3 linked regions of the Homo sapiens genome follow. The protein of the gene in region 3 interacts with the protein of the main gene of each other region in a biochemical or structural test. Each region holds a gene or a part of one and is shown on either strand. Other genes may lie near its edges.

What was found.
Region 1: the proteins of HNF1B (region 3) and PRDM1 form a complex in vitro, tested with the Homo sapiens proteins (one study listed by BioGRID).
Region 2: the proteins of HNF1B (region 3) and TLX2 form a complex in vitro, tested with the Homo sapiens proteins (one study listed by BioGRID).

What each region holds. Positions count from the first base shown.
Region 1 is NC_000006.12:106,103,317-106,110,340, reverse strand, and holds the end of PRDM1 (PR domain zinc finger protein 1), read right to left. Parts: intron 5,517-7,024; coding exon 4,408-5,516; intron 3,971-4,407; coding exon 3,842-3,970; intron 3,431-3,841; coding exon 2,855-3,430; 3' UTR 403-2,854; downstream 1-402. UniProt on the Homo sapiens protein: Transcription factor that mediates a transcriptional program in various innate and adaptive immune tissue-resident lymphocyte T cell types such as tissue-resident memory T (Trm), natural killer (trNK) and natural killer T (NKT) cells and negatively regulates gene expression of proteins that promote the egress of tissue-resident T-cell populations from non-lymphoid organs.
Region 2 is NC_000002.12:74,510,278-74,517,454, forward strand, and holds TLX2 (T-cell leukemia homeobox protein 2), read left to right. Parts: upstream 1-4,172; 5' UTR 4,173-4,529; coding exon 4,530-4,929; intron 4,930-5,355; coding exon 5,356-5,593; intron 5,594-5,695; coding exon 5,696-5,912; 3' UTR 5,913-6,871; downstream 6,872-7,177. UniProt on the Homo sapiens protein: Transcription activator that binds DNA elements with the consensus sequence 5'-CGGTAATTGG-3'. Binds DNA via its homeobox. Required for normal cell death of enteric neurons in the gastrointestinal tract.
Region 3 is NC_000017.11:37,735,045-37,742,068, reverse strand, and holds part of HNF1B (hepatocyte nuclear factor 1-beta), read left to right. Parts: intron 1-2,429; coding exon 2,430-2,629; intron 2,630-7,024. UniProt on the Homo sapiens protein: Transcription factor that binds to the inverted palindrome 5'-GTTAATNATTAAC-3'. Binds to the FPC element in the cAMP regulatory unit of the PLAU gene. Transcriptional activity is increased by coactivator PCBD1.

The DNA of each region.
Region 1 (7,024 bases), on a different chromosome or scaffold from region 3:
AGACTGGCACAAGCTAGCAGGGCATTTCTGGAAGTGATCCAAGTCCTCCTTATCTGCTCACCACCCCATGTCCATTGACGAAATAAAATGTAAAAGTTCACAAAGCAAACAAATCGTCTCCCACTTACTGGCTGATGCTTGAAATGCTTCCTTTAGAGAACATTTTTATAGTTCATAAAGAAAAATCTTAGTTATGAGAGACAAATCAATGCTGTCAGATCACGCACAAATATACTCCTGGAAGGAGCCGGGGGAGATCAGGGCACCCCAGAGGGTGCTGCAGAAGAACAGGGGTGGGGGCAGGGGAGAGACAAATTGCATTGTGTTCAAAATTTGTTCTGGTGCCATCTGTACAGTATGGAGATGTCGCTCACTGACCCTTCACTCAAGACACTAGACAAATTTTGGTAAAGCATGAACATTTATATTTAATTTACATTTTGACAATTTGCACATAAATAACATTGTAAACCAGTATGTAAACATAAGATAGTTTGTTGTTCTAGCAAAGTAAAAAGCCAGTAACTTTGGTCAGTTTTAACTTTGAGTAGAGGAAAAAATAAAACCACTGTTGATTGTGGGCTCAACATTCACATGTAAGAGGCAGAAAAGAGAAGGATGGATGGTGAGAGAAGCAAGAAGTCTTTATAAAAATTCTCACTATGGGAAAGCACAAAAGGAGAAAAAGAACAAACGAGTAGTTGGGAATCAAAAGTATTTGGTCTAATGTCAACGTGATGCTTTGGTTTACCTTCAGTTAAGGACTGTGTTTATCAAACACTGATACATAAAAAGCTGTCAGTCTTGGAAGTTACAGAAGACCAGTAAGGCTCTTGGGTTTCCCTGGATTATTCGAAATTTGTTCTCTTCTACAGGTGAACATTAGTTGATGTGAACAAAATGTCAAATATAATTATAAAATAGATTGGAGTAATGTATCAGTATTTAGTAAGGAGGAAAACAGAAAAATTGCAGCGGTAAAGTCAGTTTTTTATTTCTGTGACTTGGGTGTGACCACATAATCATAAAGTGGCAAAAAAAAAATAGAGCTGTCTTAGATGGTCCTTAATACTAAAAAATGATGTATCTCTTCCTCCCTGGTTGTTTTGTGGTCCCCACCACTGCACCAAGGTTTTAGGGTCTCTTACAGTAGGCAAGGGTGCCCAATCATACCGACGTGATTGTGAGGTCACCAAGTATTAAGCAAAGTCTCAGAAAGGAGTGTTCTTTTTTTTTTTTTTTTTTTTTTGCCCTTAGAAAAAGTAGATCTTTTACATGGCTTGGCTCACAATTTAAGTGGTTATAAATATATATACATATGATATAGTGGTATAAATAGATTTATAAATATACATCATTTTTTGCTACACTTTGAACACCAACATGTAATCTTTGGGCTTAGCAGAATAAAAGATAGAATAACACAAAGTCTATCTTGCTGGAGCACATTTACTCGGTTTCTCCTCTAGAGAAGCAAATCATTAGATAAGACATCATTTCCTGCACTACTGGACACACTCAATGAGGTAACTGTTGTTGAACAACTTTGCAATGCCCTTTCATCTTCCATTAAATTAACCATAAAATGTAAAAACACAAATACTGAGGAAAATCTGAGTTTTACAGAAAAAATACAATTGATGTGTTGGGGATAGGAATGTTCATTACCCGCTTTTACCCCAAGATGACTAGAATACCCGTTTTTTGTTGTTTGTGTGTTTGTTTTTAAAGTGTGGCCTGAGCCTATCTACCTCGAATCCTTCCTGGTAGAGCACCATGTTTGTGCAATTTTGACATTAAAAAAAAAAAAAAAAAAAAAGCAACAAAAACCAACAACAAAACACCACCCAGACTCAAGCCCCCAAATCGCACACACACAAAGCCACCTATGCTTTGGGGAAATTTTCGCAGTGGTTTTAAAACATGGCATTTTTTTCTTCTTCACATTTTCTGATAATACAATGGATGCAAAAGTCATGTGGCCGCTCTGAATGGCCACAGGACTCGGTGGGGAGGGCAGGGCGGTGGGAGGATTCTGCTCTTTTGGAGGGAGAGACAGGTTGGTAAAGCCTTCCTGTCACCCTTCCGGTAAAATTGTGGCTGGGGGAAAAACATGAACTATCAACAAAAATATACAAGATTCCCTTTCTTGTTTCTTCTACTTAAGTTATTCTTGGGTAATCCTGCACACATACCCCCAAGTTATGTACAATGCTGTTCAAATGATAGGATCCCAGGAATGAACACATCAACTGTCCAACATTGGCAATTACCCAAACCTCATTTTCAAACCATTATTAGAGAGAGAGGTTGACTGAAGTCATATATTTGTTTAACTAAATCTTAGGTACTTATACAGATGTGCAGAAATTATCTACAAAGAATGGCCACAAGACAAAAATACATTTATACTCAAATTACAAGGAATCTTTCCAGTCATTGTAAACTTTTTTAATTATTGCTTTCTGAATGATAAATTGTATAATAAATTATGAAGGATTATCATTGAAAAAATAATTATGACTAGGTAATAGTCTTAGTAATGGGAAGGCTATGCAAACATGTCCACACAAATATTCAAAATACACAGGGGCAAATATATAGACACAGGTGTAAATAAGTATATATAATATGTATACAGATATATATATATATATATATATGGCCTTTGCCTTGTTCATGCCCTGAGATTTCAGTAACTTTGGAGTTCCTTCTTTAATTCCAGAGGTGAGGGGAAACCATTTGCTGTCGAGAGAGCTTTGCAGAGCTGGGATTATGTACAAGCCACTTCCTACAGGCACCCTGACTCACCAAGTCATAACTTAAGAAACAAAATAAGTGTTTTCTGAAAATCTTAAGGATCCATTGGTTCAACTGTTTCTTGTTTGACCTTTACAGGTACCAGAGGTAGTGGGTTGCTGGGAGGCAACTTCATGAGGGGTAGATCTGATGACTCATAAAGGCTGCACCCTGAGGAGAGGAGTCCATTCCCCATGTTTCTTTGCAAAGACACTTTCAGGCCAGTTTCTTCTTTCTCTTTTCTGACCACGGCCAGAATTTCCTTCTCCACTACAGAGATCACACTGATGTCATCCTCCACGTCCTCGAGCCGGTCAGCATTGTCACTGATGTCAAACTTCTCGATTTCTTCATTGATTCGGGTCAGATCTTCCAAGGGCAGCCCAGGCGCCGGGGCCGCAGCGCAGTTCCCTTTCAGGTGAACCTTGAGGCTACAGAGATGGATGTAGTTCTTGTGGCACTGGGAGCACTTGTGGGGCCGCTCCCGGGTGTGCAGACGCTTGTGCAGTTTCAGGTGCACAAACTGGGTGAACTTGGCAGGGCACACCTTGCATTGGTATGGTTTCTCTCCAGAATGGAGTCGCAGGTGGGTCTTGAGATTGCTGGTGCTGCTAAATCTCTTGTGGCAGACCTACAGTGTAGGGGAGAGAGACAGCAGGGAAGGGAGACAGGAAGGCCAGAAGATTAAGAGTTGCCAACGGGAGGGGCAGGCTTACCGGCCAACGCCCAGCAACCTAGGAGGTGAGAAGCCTCCTTGTGGCACCTCCAGTGTGGTATTAAGCAAACGGGGGGATGTGGGCACACAGCACACGAGGGGCTGTTTATTTCCCCTACCATTTTCCCACCCACTGGAAGCTGGCTGTGCCATCTCAAGTCATCAGCAGATACAAAGTACTGGGAAGGACCATAGTGCCATCAGTCCAGGATGGGACAACGCAGAATCTGGTGTTGGCTTTAACTACGGGCTATATAGGACATGGGAGGGTGACTCACAGACATTTTCTACAAAGGTCAGAAGGTCTACCCAGAAAATACTGCGCACCTGGCATTCATGTGGCTTTTCTCCCGTGTGTACCAGGTAGTGTTTCTGCAGGTGGGCGAGCTGAGTAAAGCCCTTGTTGCAAGTCTGACATTTGAAAGGCCGTTCTCCACTGTGCACTCTCAGGTGGACCTGGGAAGAAGCCACATGTGTTAGCTCTGCTCTCAAGCTGGCTCTGAGACCTAACATTTCTGCTCCAAGACTCAAGTGTTGATGCAAATATCTTAAGAAAAGCATCAAGACAGTCTTAAAAAGAAGAAATCTTCATGTTTTCAGAATGGTGTTTTTCTTAAAAGCACAAAAATCACAGGCTAGCAGGGAGTTTCACCTAATCTTCTAGTCCAAACCCCTAATTTTTTTATTATTCAGAAGAAAATCAGGAGAAGGGAAGTCACTTGTCCAAAGTCAAAGAGCTAGAAGTGGCAAAAGCCAGGCGGAATCCATACCCACTATCCCCAACCGGGGGCTCATACTACTGCAAATGCAATCGATACCCCATGGAAAGCAAGCTAAATACAAACACAAGCATGCACTCACAGCCCCTTGGACTGCTCTCTCTCAAGGCCTACCTTCAGATTGGAGAGCTGGCCGAAAGTCTTGGCGCAAACGTTGCATTCGTACTTGATCTTGCCGTTCTGCTTCTTCAGCGGGTAGGGAAGGGTCTTGTAGCCGGTCATGTTTCTTTTGTTTTTAATGAGATTCATGGCTTCGTCGCTGCTGGGGGCTGCCATCGCTGCTGAGGTAGCTTTGGGCTGCACCACATGTTCTGCCGTGGCGGCTGTTCCCGCCGTGGGAGACCCGCTTGTGGGGCTACAGGCCTTGTCCTTCATGCTGGCGGCGGCCCCGGTAAAGGAGAAGGCACTGTGGGGCGCCGGGACAAGCACCTCCCTGGGATGCTCCGGCTGGAGCAACCTCCGGGCTCCATCTGAGGGCAGCGAGCTCGGGAGAGAAGTGGGGTTGAGCATGGGGTGGGGCAGGCTGCCCCCACCGAGGAGATTGCTGTAGACAGGGCACAGCCTCGGGAAGAGGCCAAAGTTGTTGATGCCATTCATGCTGCTCACAGCGCTCAGGCCATTACAATTCATGCCGTAGGGGGGCAAGAGGAACTTGGGGTAGTGAGCGTTGTACGAGGGGATGAAAGCTGGCGGGAGGTGGGGCAGGGGTGCGTAGCCAGGGTAGGAGCCCAAACCTTCCGTGCCGTAGGACGCGTTCAAGTAAGCGTAGGAGTCCCGGTGCTCTTGAGAGCCGGGGCCCACAGGGGACACCGTATTCCCAGGGCTGCTGTGAGGGCTGGAGCTCTTGAGGCTTTGGTCGGGGCTGCTTCTTGCAGAGGGGCTTGGAGTGGTGGAGGATGGAATGGGGGAGCGAGTGATGTACGTGGGTCTCTCGATCCCGTAGGCCAGGGAAGCTTTCAAAAAGTCTTCTGGCAGAGGGGCCCGGATGGGGTAAACGACCCGAGGGTAGAAGGGCATTTCGGGGCTCCCACGTCTTCTAAAGTCATCGAGGTCCTTTTCTGATGTGAGGGGTGAAATGTTAGAACGGTAGAGGTCCTTTCCTTTGGAGGGGTTGGAGTCCAATTTTAGGATTTCTTTCACGCTGTACTCTCTCTTTGGGACATTCTTTGGGCAGAGTTCATTTTTCTCAGTGCTCGGTTGCTTTAGACTGCTCTGTGTTTGTGCTGAAATAAAGAAAAAGGGGCGATTACACAGAGGGCTAGAGAGAACTGAAGCAAAACTGCCAAAGTTGCTCCTCCTTCTTGAGAAAACCTGAGTAACAGCTGGCGACACAATCGCCACATATCTGGCTTCCAACGCACTCTCATTCTAGAAGGCTCTGGGCCACTCACTCAAAAGTGCAGTTCCGTTTCCTCCTCAGCAAAATGCGGACAATGGCAGCACAGACAGAACAAACAGCAGCCTTGGGTGATTCTGTTTTCATTAGTACAGACCTTATGATAGAAAATTGCTGTTTAGGCTGGAGTAAGATAGCCTAAGCTGGATGCAGTGGCTCTTGCCTGTAATCCCAGCACTTTGGGAGGCCGAGGTGGGCGGATCACCTGAGGTCGGAAGTTCGAGACCAGCCTGACCAACATGGAGAAACCCCATCTCTACTAAAAATACAAAATTAGCTGGGCGTGGTGGCGCACACCTGTAATCCCAGCTACTTGGGAGGCTGAGGCAGAAGAATCGCTTGAATCTGGGAGGTGGAGGTTGTGGTGAGCCGAGATTGTGCCATTGCACTCCAGACTGGGCAACAAGAGCAAAACTCTGTCTCAAAAAAGAAAAAAAAAAAAAAAACTTCCATTTTAATGGAGTGGAAAAATACTGGGGTGGGGACCCTGTCATAGGTTAATAAAAGTCTTTCTGATGTTCATGGTTTACCTAAAGGAAATCAGCATACCCTGAGAACTAAATGTGAAAGATTAAGACTCATTTCAAGTAATACACAGTCATCAATTTTCGCTTCTACTCTTGTTGAATACGAATTTGATAAAGCCCTGTTCAAACTGCCTATGCCAAGGAGCTTAGCGAAGTGAATACCACCTTCCTCGCGATGTGCAGACAGCCTAAGCACTTCACCAAGGCTCTGTCTGGTCTAGCCAGGATCCCAGCAGTGCTGGCCCCTGGAGTCACAAGGCGTGACAGTCACCTCTGCCAAACCACAATAGGTACTTCCTGAGCCAGTTCAATTACTTAGCGCACCCAAGAAAACAGAACAGGCTAAGAGGAAAGCACTTATTCCCAAAGACGGCACGTTATTACTTGGTAAAGATACTATTTAGGAACAGCAGCAATGAGGACAGTTCTAGACTATCCCTGCCACAGCCAGCCCTGTCTCCTCGCTACACAATAAATGATGCCTTCAGGAAAAAACACCCATCTGGGCAGGGAAAACTGAAAATTCCCTGCTCAGCCTTGCCTGGAAACCAAAAGTAAAACATACGATGTTTAGTTTGAGCTCTGATTATTGGAGGACAGTCACTCAAGCCAGGACACCTGCCCTAGGAACGCACTGAAGGCATTGGCTGTCAATGTGTGGAGATGCCTTCAGAGGCAGCAGGTTTGGGGGATCATGCTGAAGCCTTTGTGCAAATATCCTTCATCGTCTAAAAAATGTCTCTGCTTGAATTTAGTTGAGAAAGAACTCCACACTTGCTATCTGATAGGTCTAGAAATGAACTCTGTG
Region 2 (7,177 bases), on a different chromosome or scaffold from region 3:
CCCAGCTACTTGGGAGGCTGAGTTAGGAAGATTGCTCGAGCCTGGGAGGTTGAGGCAGCAGTGAACCGTGATAATGCTACTGCACTCCAGCCTGAGCGACAGAGTGAGATCCCATGTCTTAAAAAAAAAAAAAAAAGAAAAGAAAAAAGAAAGCTTAAGTCTGAGCTCTGAAGAATCCTCACAGTCTTCAGTGGAAGAAGGAAAATCAGTGGAGGAAAAACATAAGCAGTGACTACGAAAGTCCAAAGATGTGGAATAAGATATTACAGAAGCAAAAAGAAGGGACACTTCAAAAAATAATTGATGACCAACAAAGTAAAACATGCCAGGGAAGTCCTGGAGGAGGGATACTGAACACTGGAGCTCTCTGAGAAAGGGTTACTATAATGAAGGCAGCTTGCACTGAGTTAAAACAAGAATAAATCATGATGAAATGGAGGCAGTAGGCATGAAGTAAAAAGGAAAGGAAAAGCATGATCTCTCTTGAAGACTCAGGCAAAGATTTTGTCCAGATGATAAAGATCTGAGACAGCTGAGGGGTAGGAAAGACTAAGTTGATGAGAGCCACGGACACACAGGACATGGTGAGACAGATCCAAAGCAGTGTGTATGAGGGGGCACTCATTCCAGCACCTCTATCTTCGTCTTTTTTTTTTTTTTTTTTTTTTGAGATGGAGTCTCGCTTTGTCACCCAGGCTAGAGTGCAGTGGCGCGATCTCGGCTCACTGCCAGCTCCGCCTCCCGGGTTCACGCCATTCTCCTGCCTCAGCATCCCGAGTAGCTGGGACTACGGGTGCCCGCCACCAAGCCCGGCTAATTTTTTGTAGTTTTAGTAGACACGGGGTTTCACCGTGTCAGCCAGGATGGTCTCAATCTGCTGACCTCGTGATCCACCCACCTAGGCCTCCCAAAGTGCTAGGATTACAGGCATGAGCCACCGCGCCTAGCCAATCTTGAATATAAACCAGCAGGAACCATCCTTTCCCCGTGAATCAGAGACAAGGAGGCAAGAAAGGACATTTCAAGCCAGGTTGGGGTGGTGGTGCACACCTGTAACTCTAGATACTCAGGGGGTCAAAGTGGGAGGATTGTCTGAGCCCAGGAGTTTGAGGCCAGCCAGCCAGCCTGGGCATCATAGCGAGACTCTGTCTCTTAAAAAAAGAGAAAGTCCTAGGACTGTGGTCTGGGTGACGTAACTGGATGCCATCTGTTCTTGAAGTGGGGCACTAAAATATTTTAAAAACTCTCCAGAACACTTGTATGAACTACTGAGTTTGTGACCATTCTCCTTAAAGGATTAGTTGGACAGTCCCTGGGTGGCAGTACCATCTGTGCTGAACTCAAACGGCAGGGGTGTACGGGTCTGCATGATGTTGCCTTTTTTTCATTTGTTGATTCACTCACTGATTCATTCAAGGAGGATTTATTTAGGTTGGCTGGAGACACACTGGTTACCCTGCCCCCCTGCCCCCAGACTCAACCTTCAGAGCAGAGAATGGGACTAGCAAACTCCTAACCTGCACACCAGCCCTCTTCAGAGATTATATTTCTTTGCTGTCTCCCTAGGTTTCCTGCTCCCATCTGGAGGAATCCAGCCCTTGGTACCAAGGAAGTTTTTTTTGTTGTTGTTTGTTTGTTTGTTTTTTTTGAGATGGAGTCTTGCTCTGTTTCCCCAGACTGGAATGCAGTGGTGATCTCCGCTCACTGAAACCTCTGCCTCCCTGGTTCAAGTGATTCTCCTGCCTCAGCCTCCCCAGTAGCTGAGATTACAGGCACCTGCCAACATGCCCAGCTAATTTTTTTGTATTTTTAATAGAGACGGGGTTTCACCATGTTGGCCAGGCTGGTCTTGAACTCCTGACATCAGGTGATCCGTCCCCTCTTGGCATTCCAAAGTGGTGGGATTACAGGCATGAGCCACTGCTCCCGGCCTGAAGATTTGGACTAAACAGGTTCATGCTTCCTTGTAGCCCTCTCTACTGCTGAGAAAAGTGCATGGGTTTCTGTAAAGAGACGGGAGGTGATAATGTCTGTCTTCTCCATCAAGATGAAAATACATCTGCTAAATTGGTAGGAGCCCCCACCCTCTTTCAGAACGGGCTGTTAGCAGGGCTGAGGAGGGGCTGGACAAATTGGATAGTAGAGTGGTCAAGGTGGGGGAGGTTGACACTTTTTTTTTTTTTTCAGACAGAGTCTTGCTGTGTTGCCCAGGCTGGAGTGCAGTGGCGCGATCTCGGCTCACTGCAAGCTCCACCTCCCGGGTTCATGCCATTCTCCTGCCTCAGCCTCCCAAGTAGCTGGGACTACAGGCACCCGCCACCACGCCCAGCTAATTTTTGTATTTTTAGTAGAGATGGGTTTCACCGTGTTAGCCAGGATGGTCTCAATCTCCTGACCTCGTGATCCACCCGCCTCGGCCTCCCAAAGTGCTGGTATTACAGGCGTGAGCCACCGCGCCTGGCAGGTTGACACATATTAATGCCCACTATTCCTCCCACTGCCCTCTGTCCCATTTATGGTTCACCTCCTCTAGATATAAGGCTTCAGAGAACACTGAAGGGCTGGTGGACAGAGCTCACCCTTCTTTCTCTTCTTTATCTTTCTGCCCAGATGCCCAAATATCATTCCTGGTTCCCAGGGGAGAAAAGACCCCTTCACCCTGCCCCAGGCGCCAGGCTGCCAGCCCATCTGCTGGGGAGAAAGGAGGGGGCAGAGTCTTTCCCAGGGGATCCTGGAGAATCAGTTTGAAGATCAGTGCTCCCAGGGAGATCCAGCTAGTAGACTTACAAAGCATTTCGGTTCACACGGGAACCAGCAGGATGGAGCTGAACAGCGGGGTGGGCTCGGGACGAGGGTAGAGGGCTGGCACAGCAGGGTAAGGTCCTTTGGCCACCACGTGTCAGAGGTAGGCTGAGCTGCTCGTTGGTGCCCACCCGCCACCGCCACCGCAGGATGGTAGAAGCGCCCCCCTCTCTGAGCCCAGTCTCACCGGCTCAGAGGCGCCAGGGCCCCCCCGGGGGCCGGGGCGGGCCGGGGAAGGTAATGTAATTCCGGCCCAGCTAACCCGATTACCGCGGCCTGCACCGGGCAGGGCGGCGGCGGGGGCGGGTCTAAGGCTCAGGGGCCCGCCCGCGGGGGTCCCATCCCCGGGAAGGACGCAGAGTTCACGCACTCCCGGCTCCTGGATTCATGGCCAGAGGTCACAAGGTCACCAAGCGGCTTAGGTCTTTCCCCACCTCCCTTCTCTGACAGCTCCAGGCCATTTTTTGAGTTTGGGTGGGGTAAAATGTTTATGGGAAACAAGGCGGCCAGGATCCAACCAAGGCCTCAGTGAGGTCCCACGTGTCCCCCGTGGCGAGATTTCGCCCTCCCGCCGTTGAGGAGGAAGAGTGTGAGAACAGACTTCCTAGGCACAGAATGGAGGGGCAGAGTCCTGCATTGAGGACTCCCTGCACTTGGGGTCCGGGGGTAAGTGCCAGCCCCAAGAACCCGCCGGCCTGATTTGGCCCGGGTTGAGCCATGGTCCGTTTTACACGGATTTTGGAAAATCGAAATTCTAGGAAACACAGGACACCAATTACCGGTGCGCATGAACAGGGCTGGGGGGACCTACAGGAGAGGCCAGAAGGCGCACCACGATCGCCAGCCCAAAGCGGCCGTTCCCCGCCCTTAGCCCCTGCCGTCCCCTTCCCACACCTGTTCTCTTCCTGGGCCTGCAGCTCACCGGGCGCCGTTCCCCAGCCGCTTCTTACGCAGCCGGGAAACCACAACGAGATTTGGTCTTCGAGAGCATTTAGGCGGGGACCACAACGAATCCGGGAGTTGGCCAGAAGGATCCATCGAGAGGCGAAGAGTGGGGGCTGGGGGAGGAGGCACCTGCGGAGGAAGCCGGTGAGGCGGAGGCAGCCCAAAGGCGGAGGCCGCCCAAAGGCGGAGGCCAGCAAGGATGGAGGCGCGGTGAGCATCTCCGCTGACTCAGCGGCCCATGCTCGGGCCCCTCCCGCGCTGAGCCTGGCTCCTAACACCCTGGCCCCCTGTCCCCCTCCCCGCACATCTCCGCCAGCCAGCCTTCCCCCTGCGCTTGGCGCAAACAGGCGTCCCTTCCCCTTTAACTGCTGGGCCCCGCCCCTGCCCTACCCCCAGCCCCCACTACCCACCCGGGCCGATCCGTCAGTCACTGCCCCAGCCGGAGCTGGCCAACCCTCTCCACCCGGGACTTGGGCAGCGGCGCCGGCAGCCCAGCGTCTATTTGCGCTTAAGAGCCAGCAAGGAAGCTCCAGGGGCCCCAGCTGGCCGTGCTCCCCCGGGATGCAAGTCCCTGCGCTGACGCCCGGCAGCGGCTGGCACGGGCGCGGCTGCTCCGGGTGCACAGGGATGCTGCTGTTTCGGGGACCCCGGCGCCCTGCCTTGGCCAGCCCCGCGGGCCCCTGAGGCCACTCTCCGGAGCGCGCCGCCGCTGGGCTTCTGGCGCTGCCTGAGGCATCCTCCCCAACCACCGAACCTCCGGCGGTTCTCCTCGGCCCAGACCGATGGAGCCGGGGATGCTGGGTCCACACAACCTCCCACACCACGAGCCAATCAGCTTCGGCATCGATCAGATCCTGAGCGGCCCCGAAACCCCAGGGGGCGGTCTAGGCCTGGGTCGCGGGGGCCAGGGTCATGGGGAGAATGGGGCGTTCTCGGGTGGATACCACGGAGCCTCGGGCTACGGTCCCGCCGGCTCACTTGCCCCGCTGCCCGGCAGCTCCGGAGTGGGCCCAGGCGGCGTGATCCGCGTCCCTGCGCACCGCCCGCTGCCTGTGCCGCCGCCCGCTGGGGGGGCGCCTGCAGTGCCTGGGCCCTCGGGTTTGGGCGGCGCCGGAGGCCTAGCGGGACTCACCTTCCCCTGGATGGACAGCGGCCGCCGCTTTGCCAAGGACCGGCTCACGGGTGAGGTTGTCTGACCCCTCCAGCGTCACGCCCGACTCTGACCCCGTCTCCTCATTTCTTAGCTTTCTGCTCCAACTCAAGGACCCCTTTCACACCTCCCACTAGATCCTCCCAGGGGATCCTCCCCCAACTCAAATCTCTGGGTCCTGCCTCCGAGAGGTGATGGGGAGGGAGCTGCCGTCGGTGCCCGCGCCCTCCTCTGTAGTCCCACTGTCCACGCGTGGGGAGGGGAGGGTGAAGTTACAGGGGACGTCTCCCTCGCATCCCAGGGGAAGGGCCTTTCTTGGCTATAGGGCTCGGCTGATGCTTAGGGCCCGGGTAAGGACAGGGCGCGGGAGTTCTGCGGCCTGGACAGCCGCGCGGCCTTCTCAGTGGCACCTCGGGCCACCCTGCAAATCCTGCCCTGGTCTTTCTTCCTCCCGGTAGCTGCGCTCTCGCCCTTCTCTGGGACGCGCCGCATAGGCCACCCCTACCAAAACCGGACCCCTCCGAAGCGGAAGAAGCCGCGCACGTCCTTCTCCCGCTCACAGGTGCTGGAGTTGGAGCGGCGCTTCCTGCGCCAGAAGTACCTGGCCTCTGCGGAGAGGGCGGCGCTGGCCAAGGCCTTGCGCATGACCGACGCACAGGTCAAAACGTGGTTCCAGAACCGACGCACCAAGTGGCGGTGAGGCGCGGCGCGGGCGAGGGCGGACTGGGGTTCCCGAGCAGGGCCTGGTGAGAAGCGACGCGGCGGGCGCCCCGCTGACCCCGCGTCTCCCTCCCTTAGGCGCCAGACGGCGGAGGAGCGCGAGGCCGAGCGGCACCGCGCGGGCCGGCTGCTCCTGCATCTGCAGCAGGACGCGTTGCCACGGCCGCTGCGGCCGCCGCTGCCCCCGGACCCTCTCTGCCTGCACAACTCGTCGCTCTTCGCGCTGCAGAACCTGCAGCCCTGGGCCGAGGACAACAAAGTGGCTTCAGTGTCCGGGCTCGCCTCGGTGGTGTGAGCGACGCCCGTCCGATCGGCGTGGAGCGCCGGGCCCGGAGCGGTGGAGCGCGCGGCTGCCTGCGTCCATGGTCTAGTGGCAGCCGGGCGCGTGAGGAGCGGCAGGCCTTGAGGCTGTCGTCGAGGGCTCCTCCACCACCGGCCGGCTCCCAAGCCAGCGTTGCGCAGATGCACGGCCAGCTCAGAGGCGGCCTTTCCCGCCATTTTTCACTTCACTGCCGTTACGCCCTCGCTGGAACCTGAGGCGCCGAGAGGGCGGGACCTGCAGGACAGTAGCCAATGAGGTGCGGGGAGGGGGCCGGGCTGGCCAATGGGAGCTGCTTTCCTGAGGGACTCGAAATTCTCCGGCGGGTGGTCGGGAGCTGGGGCTCTGAGGGGCTCTAGCGGCGTTGCGCGCGGTGCCGGCTGGGTCTGTACCAAAGGTGTGAAGGAAAGAAGACACCGACCACGGCGAAGCAATAGAGGGGGTGCTGGAGCGCGAGAGGCTGGCTGATTGTGACCGAAACCAGAGGGTTGTCCACCCCGGGCATCTCATCCCTCAACTGTAAAATAATCGCTAAGGATTCCTTCCTGACTTTGAGCCTCACGTTGTCATGTGTGTTCAGCCTGCTGGCCACATCCTCCGGCAACACGCCCGGGCAGGAGGCGAGTCGGATACTTACACACCCAACGAAAGAGAAAATCTGGCTCCGGTGTCACATAGGGACAGAGAAGGGAGAGGAGGAAACAGTGGACAAAGTTAATGGGCCCAGTGGAGTTAGGGTGAAGAGAATTTGGAAAATAATTTGGAAGTGACAAGCTTAAGAAGAATCAAAGGTAATTCCAAGACTGGAAATGTGCAGCATCAGGAAATCAATGGTGCTGTGGATGATGAAAGGGAAATTGGGAAGACTGGAGCAAAATTAACTGTATAGGCAAAACTAAATGTTATACCTAGAGAGAATAAATCCTGGAGAAGTGCCTTTGAGGGAGATCAGCTGACATCCACATAGAGGTGGACCTAGATAGAATGAATGAGAACAGATAGAATCTCTGAGGGAGGGAACTCTTGAGGAGAAAAGCAGAGTTCTAAGGACTAAACCTTTCCACCAAATTCGACAACCACCTTTGCAATGTGCAAGATGATGGAGAATACCTAAGTCAATAGTCCAAGGGCAGGCAGGGCACGGTGGCTCACGCCTGTAATCCCAGCACTTTGGGCCGAGGCGGGAGGATCACAAGGTCAGGAGATCGAGACCATCCTGGCTAACACGGTGAAACCCTGTC
Region 3 (7,024 bases):
CTCTTCGGGACCGGTGCCTTTCTCGGTGTTAGGGAACCTCTGAACCTGAGCTGTGTTTTCAAACAAACAAACAAAAATAACCAGCTCTCCCGGCTCTTCCCGGTGAACACACGTGAATTTTGGGGTCAGAGGGTTGTGAAGGTATAACTGCGCCATCTTACTCCTCACTCTTTTAAGTCGGACTTAAAAGGTTTTGCCATTATTTATAAGGTTCTTGGGGGCTTTTTTTAAACCCTCCCCAATTGTTGGGCTAATTCACTGTTTCCACAGAATCATTCCCACTTAGAACAGTACCCTATTTTTCTAGGTTTCTTAGGCATACAAAATGAACACAGGTAAAGGCATTTAAACAAAAGAAAAATAGCCGAAGAATTTGCTAAAGCAATATTCACTTTTAAAATGCAATTTTTCCCCTAAGGTTCGAGGAGTCTTGTTCGTAGCCGTTGAAAGTATTTTTCCATCCTAAAAATATCGGTGGAAATATTGACCAGAAATAAACTTTTAAATGATCTGTGATGTTTACAAGGATATGTCTAAAACGTTTATTACATTATTTTCCTCTTAATGTGAATTCTCCACGTTTGAAACTGTAACTCGTTTTCTCATTTTTTGTTCTTCTTGTTACTTCCTCATATTGTGTACTTGGAAATTACCTTTGTAAATACTTGAGAAATTCGTTCTTATATATAATTAATATAAAAAGTTTGCATTTCTCAAAAACATCTCTATCAAAGCCTGTGTTCTCACGAGTTTAATATCAAAGTCTTAATAAAATAATCACAACTACCCAAATGCTTATAAAATATGTTCGATTACTGGATTTTTATTCATTAAACAGAATTAATTTTATTTGACATATTTAAAGGCGCCATTTAGAAATAAAATTGCTTATTATGTTGCAATGCTGTATCTATTTCAGCCTCTACACCGTTTTCTTTTTTGTTTCACCTGAAACTAGTTTTCCCTTCCGTTTTTTTTCTTGTTCTATCAAGCTAATATATATATCAACATACAGTAATGGGGTGCTGGTTTTTGTAAGTTAAATATGTACCTGCATTAAATAAATAGTAAACATGTATATATTGCTTCTTTAGTACTTTTGTTCTGTGCTGCACACTATTTTAATTTCTAGTTTTAAATTATATCTCTCTTTTCAAAGCATCTGTTCAATAAGCAAGAAAAGATATTGGCAAAGTTGAAACCATTCTAGACAAATAAAATTCAAAGGTGCTAAAACTAGCAGTTTACACACCTGTGTTTATGAGAAATGAAAAGTATAACCATGTTCTTATCCAGTATTTAAAATTTATGAGAAACATAATACAGGAAAACAAGCATCTAAAATTGTTAATGTCCGAAATTGAAGTTATTTGTCCCCATTAGCCCAGTAGATTTTGTCTGGAAGGTGGAGCTGTGGATTTTTTTTTTTTTTAACTACTTGCCTCACCTCAGTGGTGTGATCCTCCCGTCCCAAGGAGATACAACATTGTATTTTGGAAAACTTTTCTAAAACTCTGAAAATTATTTACTATTTGGCTAAGACATCCTCCTTGCTTCTTAGAAGGTGAACACATACATTTCACCCCTGTTTTATAAGAAATGGAGATACCCATTCAAAAGGAAAATAATGTAGGAGAGGTTGAAGCTAAAATTGGGCAAATTCAGAAACTGATGCTATCCCTACTTCATTGTAGGATCAGGGAGTCCAGCCCCAAGCTAAAGGCATCCCCACTTTCCAGTGGGCCTCCTGCCTTTTAAATCTCCCACATTGCAGGAAAATGGAGGAAAGCAAAATAAAATGGCCAGGCGCGGTGGCTCACGTCTGTAATCCCAGCACTTTGGGAGGCCGAGGCAGATGGATCACCTAAGGTCAGGAGTGTGAGCCCAGCCTGGCCAACATGGTGAAACCCCATCTCTACTAAAAATAAAAAATTTAGCTGGGTGTGGTGCTGGGCATCTATAATCCCAGTTACTCTGGAGGCTGAGGCAGGAGAATCGCTTGAACCCAGGATCCTGGTGGAGGTTGCAGTGAGCCAAGATGCCGTTGCACTCCAGCCTGGGTGACAAGAGCAAAACTCCACATCAAAAAAAATAATAATAAATAAATTAATTAATTAATTAAATAAAACAAGAGCTTTTCTTTTTGCTTAATAAGAGAGAGTGGTGGTGGTGCTTTTTTATTCCTGAAGATGGGAAGTCCTCTTTTGCCCACTAACCTCAGAAGAAAGGGATGAGGTGTACCGTACAGGGGCAGTCACCTTCTCCTCTGTTTAGCTTCCATTTTGGCCTCATGTCTACCCCAAAGTTGTAGCTTAGATGGGGGGAAAATTCAGAATTTTGCATAGACCATAGGTAGCACCCCCTAGAAAAAGAATGTTTCTCCCCAGATGTCTCCCACTAGTACCCTAACCATCTGCTTGTCTGTCTAGTGAGGACCCTTGGAGGGCTGCTAAAATGATCAAGGGTTACATGCAGCAACACAACATCCCCCAGAGGGAGGTGGTCGATGTCACCGGCCTGAACCAGTCGCACCTCTCCCAGCATCTCAACAAGGGCACCCCTATGAAGACCCAGAAGCGTGCCGCTCTGTACACCTGGTACGTCAGAAAGCAACGAGAGATCCTCCGACGTAAGTGTTTTCATCCTGCCTCTGCCTCAACCTGAAGTGACCTTTGCCCTCTCACCCCATTGGCTGCCTCAGTTTCCCTTTCATCGACAAGGCCTTGTGAGCACTTGGCAGATATGAGGAAGGTGGCAAGTAGATTTGGCCTTGGTGGTTGCTGTACAATGGATTGGCTTCTGTCATGTTCTTCAGTCACAGCCCCCTTGCTACCCAGCCAGTTGCTCTGAGGAGCCTGTCAGTGTATGCAGCATACCTTAAACTTTTTGGCCCCTCCTTCCACCTCCTTCTCTTTGAAACCAAGTAGGTGACAGAGTGAAATGTCTTCCCTGAGAGAAAACCCAGCATCTCCCCTTGATACGTGACCATCAGTCAATTTCCAAAGAAGACATTTCGTTGCAGTCAATAATATTGATTACTATTACTGTTAATTTCCTCCTCTCTGGAAAAAGTATCAACAATAGAATGCATTTGTATAGAGAGATATATTCAGAACTTCACCCTGTTCTTGGAGGATAGTGGGAGGGATTGAATCCTGAGGCAATTTAAGGTGTTTACCCACATTTACCAACACTGGTAGAGTGTGGGGACCTCAGCTGGTGGCCCTGCTCATGAAGAAGCTATTTCTGGCTAAGGCAGGGCACAGGAAAAGCATCTGCATTTGGAACTCTGACCCATCAATTCTTGTCATCCCCATTCCCATCCCAAAGTTTTTTTTCTGTCCCAAGATTTCTCCCACCCAATAATTCTAAAAGGTTTTTGTTTTGAAGTACGTCTAGAGAAGTTTGAACTGCCTATGAATAACAAGAGTAGGAATGACATACTGTCTGTATTTTAGGAAAGTATTCTTTGACATTACACTTTCATTACTTTGATCCAATCCTTTTCCTGGAAAATTTGTATCGGTTTTCACTCTCCCCACACACTATCCTCTGGCTTTATCTAGGCTTCTCTGTCTTTATCAAGATGTTAATTTCCACCACTATCTGGGTTTCTGGGTTGGGTTTTTTCCCTGTTGCTTTTTAAAATGACTCTTGTCTTCTGTTACACACTGCTCTGAAGTGATTGTTTCAGTATTTATTGTCTCAATGTCCCTGGGCTGGTGAAAGGAATGGTTTTAGGTGTTCATTTCATATTGTGGTGTTTGTGCTTTTGTTGGGAGCATTACATGAATAGATTGGAAGAAGCAACATGAGAGCTGTTTGCTGCTTAGAGCGAGAGACCTTTCCAAGAATGGGTTGGCCCCCCATACTTGGTGACTAGCTCTTTAAGAATTTGTGTTCCTGACATGAAGCAACTCTCTGTAGTTCCTGGAAAGCCTAAAAAAATTCTCAGGAGCCATTGTCTCCAAAGACCCAACAACGCTTGGGCCCTGCCCAATTTAAGCTTTATGCAGCATTTCCAGTCTGTGCTGCCTCTCTGTATTCAATGAGAATTTCTTCAGAAAGGAGAAGGAGGCAGGAAAGGCAGACTGGAAACTTCTCAAAAGACAGAGGTCCAGAAAGTTTCTCAAGATGCTGAGGAAGGGACGTTTTACAAATACAACAGCCTCTTCAAGAGATTGTTGTTATTGTTATTTTTGTTTTATTTATTTATTTATTTATTTAACTTTTTGAGACGGGGTCTCGCTCTGCCACCCAGACTGGAGTGCAGTGGCGCGATCTTGGCTCACTGCAAGCTCCGCCTCCCGGGTTCACGCCATTCTCCTGCTTCAGCCTCCCAAGTAGCTGGGACTGCAGGTGCCCGCCACCACACCTGGCTAATTTTTTTTTTTTTTGGTATTTTTAGTAGAGACGGGGTTTCACTATGTTGGCCAGGCTGGTCTTGATCTCCTGACCTCGTGATCCGCCGCCTCAGCCTCCCAAAGTGCTGGGATTACAGGGGTGAGCCACCGCACCCAGTTGTTATTTTTGTTTTAAAGTCACACGAGACATAAAAGCTTAAGAAACATTCCTTCCTTCTGTAACTATTATACAGGCACCTACTATGTGCCAAACACTACGCTAAGCTATGGAATACATAGGTTCTTTTCTCCAGGGACTTACCTGCCATCCAGTGAAGAAGTGGAGATGTTTGAGTAAATAATGACATTCACTTTCTAAGAGCTGTTATAAAGATATACACAAGGGGCAGCAGAGGAATTGCTAAATTGCCTGGAGACATCATGGGAGGCTTCCTAGAAGAGGTGACATTCAAATCATGTCTTGAAGGATGAATGTAAGACATGCAAGCATGATATAAGAATTAGGAAGTAAGAGAAATAAAAGAGGGACACAAGTGAATGGGGTGAGGAGAAGGAGGAAGAGGGGAGAGAATAAAAAATGATACATGATTACAAATTTCCTGGAAAAACTAAAAATAACAAATGGTAATATTCATGGGCCCCTCTACACACACAGAACCTCCTTGTCCAAGCAGCCCCCAAGCCTATAAAGAGGCTACTGAAGCCAACTTCTCCAAGATAATTTTCATGGGCAATGAACATTTTCTTCCCCAACCCCAATTAATCTGAAGGGAAGTAGAGAAGAGTTGTTGGTGGCTAGAGGGAGCAAATGTGGGAGTCTAGTTCTTCAAAAATTGGGAGAGGCTAGAGCCAAGCCCCTGATGTCAGTGGAACCCGAATGGTTCTGAGCACCTACAGGCAAACCCACCTGGCTGATTTGAGGACACACTGAGTTCTGAACACTGTTCAGCCTGCTACCTCCTCAAAGGGCAGGTGAGAGACTGAGGCAGCCCTCACACTGGGGAGCAGCTGCGAGAGTGTCTCACACCCACCAGACACAAAGCTTCAGGAATCGGTTTTGTCACCTCCACACAAGTCAGATATGAAGCGTTTGCGGGGTACGTGGCTTGGGTTTTGTTTTTAGTGAGAGGTGATGCACAGGCTGGTAGTTAGGAGCCTGCAAGCCTGCAGGCTGGGCTCGTGTCCAGGCTCCTGCCCCAAGTCCACATGACTTTGGACAAGTCACTTCACCAGTCTGAACCTCAGTTTCTTCATCTGTAAAATGGAGGTGGCTGTACTTCTCACATGGAGCGGTCGTAAGAATTAGATGAAGGAATATATTTAGAGGATTTGGCACAATACCTCACCACAGAAAAGGTTCAATAAATGTGAACCGTTATTGTGTCTGTTCACATCAAATGAAAAAATCTCACATTGCTCCCAGGCCCTTGGGATGATCCACACTGGCTTTCGCCATTGGTGACTCTACTGGTGCCACACAGGGCCCACGGGGAGGAGGGAAGACACTGTGACAGACCTCACTGAGCAGGGGACATCTCCTTCTCCCCCTTGGATTTCCCCTCAAGTAACTGCATTTAGAGAGCTGCTGTGAAGTCAAATACCATAGAGGGGCTAAAGCACTTTGAAAAGTATAATCAGGTGGGGCATGGTGGCTCACGCCTGTAACCCCAATGCTTTGGGAGGCTGAGGTGGCGGGAAGACTGCTTGAGGCCAGGAGTCTGAGACCAGCTTGGGCAACATAGCGAGACCCCGTCTCTACAAAAATAATTTTTTTTAATTAGTCAGATGTGGTGGCCTGCACATCCGTAGTCCCAGCTACTTGGGAGGCTAAGGCGAGAGGATGGCTTGAGCCCAGGAGGTCAAGGCTGCAGTGAGCTATGATCGTACTACTGCATTCCAGCCTGGGTCACAGAGCAAGACCTTGTTTGAAAAAAAGAAAAAGTATAACCCCCAAAGGAATTTGGGCCAACATCACTATCATCCTGACTAGGGGTAGATATTCTAAAAGACTAGTTAGTGTCCCTAAGCTTTCAGTCAGTCTCATTCCACAGCTGGGGAGACTAAATGATGAGGGAATTAAGCTGGGGCCCCACATGATCCCACTAGCAGTGACTTCCTGCTAGTACATTTGACAGGGACTCTCTCAGGTCTATAGTGGCATTGTTGGGCACCACTGAAAACAGAGCCCTAAGGTGGCCTAAGAATCCTCCAAGGTGAATGGGCCGAAATCAAAGGCCCCAGTGACACCATCAGTCCACAGTTAAACAAAGCCCAACACCACCTGCAGTTGGGATTGCAAGTCTTGGCGGGCTAGGGGCCCTAACCATTCCTCCCGATGGAGCAAAATGGAAATGAGCCTAAGACAGGTGGTAAGTTCCCTGCTGCTGGAGGCATATAGCCTGGAGGGCCACTTGGTGTGGGGTTGTAGAGGGGATTCAAACGTTAAGTAGTAGCCTGACTTGAACCTTGAGGATTTTGGATCCAGTTGTCCAAAGGAACAGGAAGGATGGCATGTAAATGATGGCACATCATTTACATCACAAAGGGAGGTGGTAGCCTTCCACTTTCTGTGACCTGTGGGAGTAATTACAGGAACTGAGAAAGAAAGTCATCAAGGTCGGGCACGGTGGCTCACACCTGTAATCCCTGCACTTTGGGAG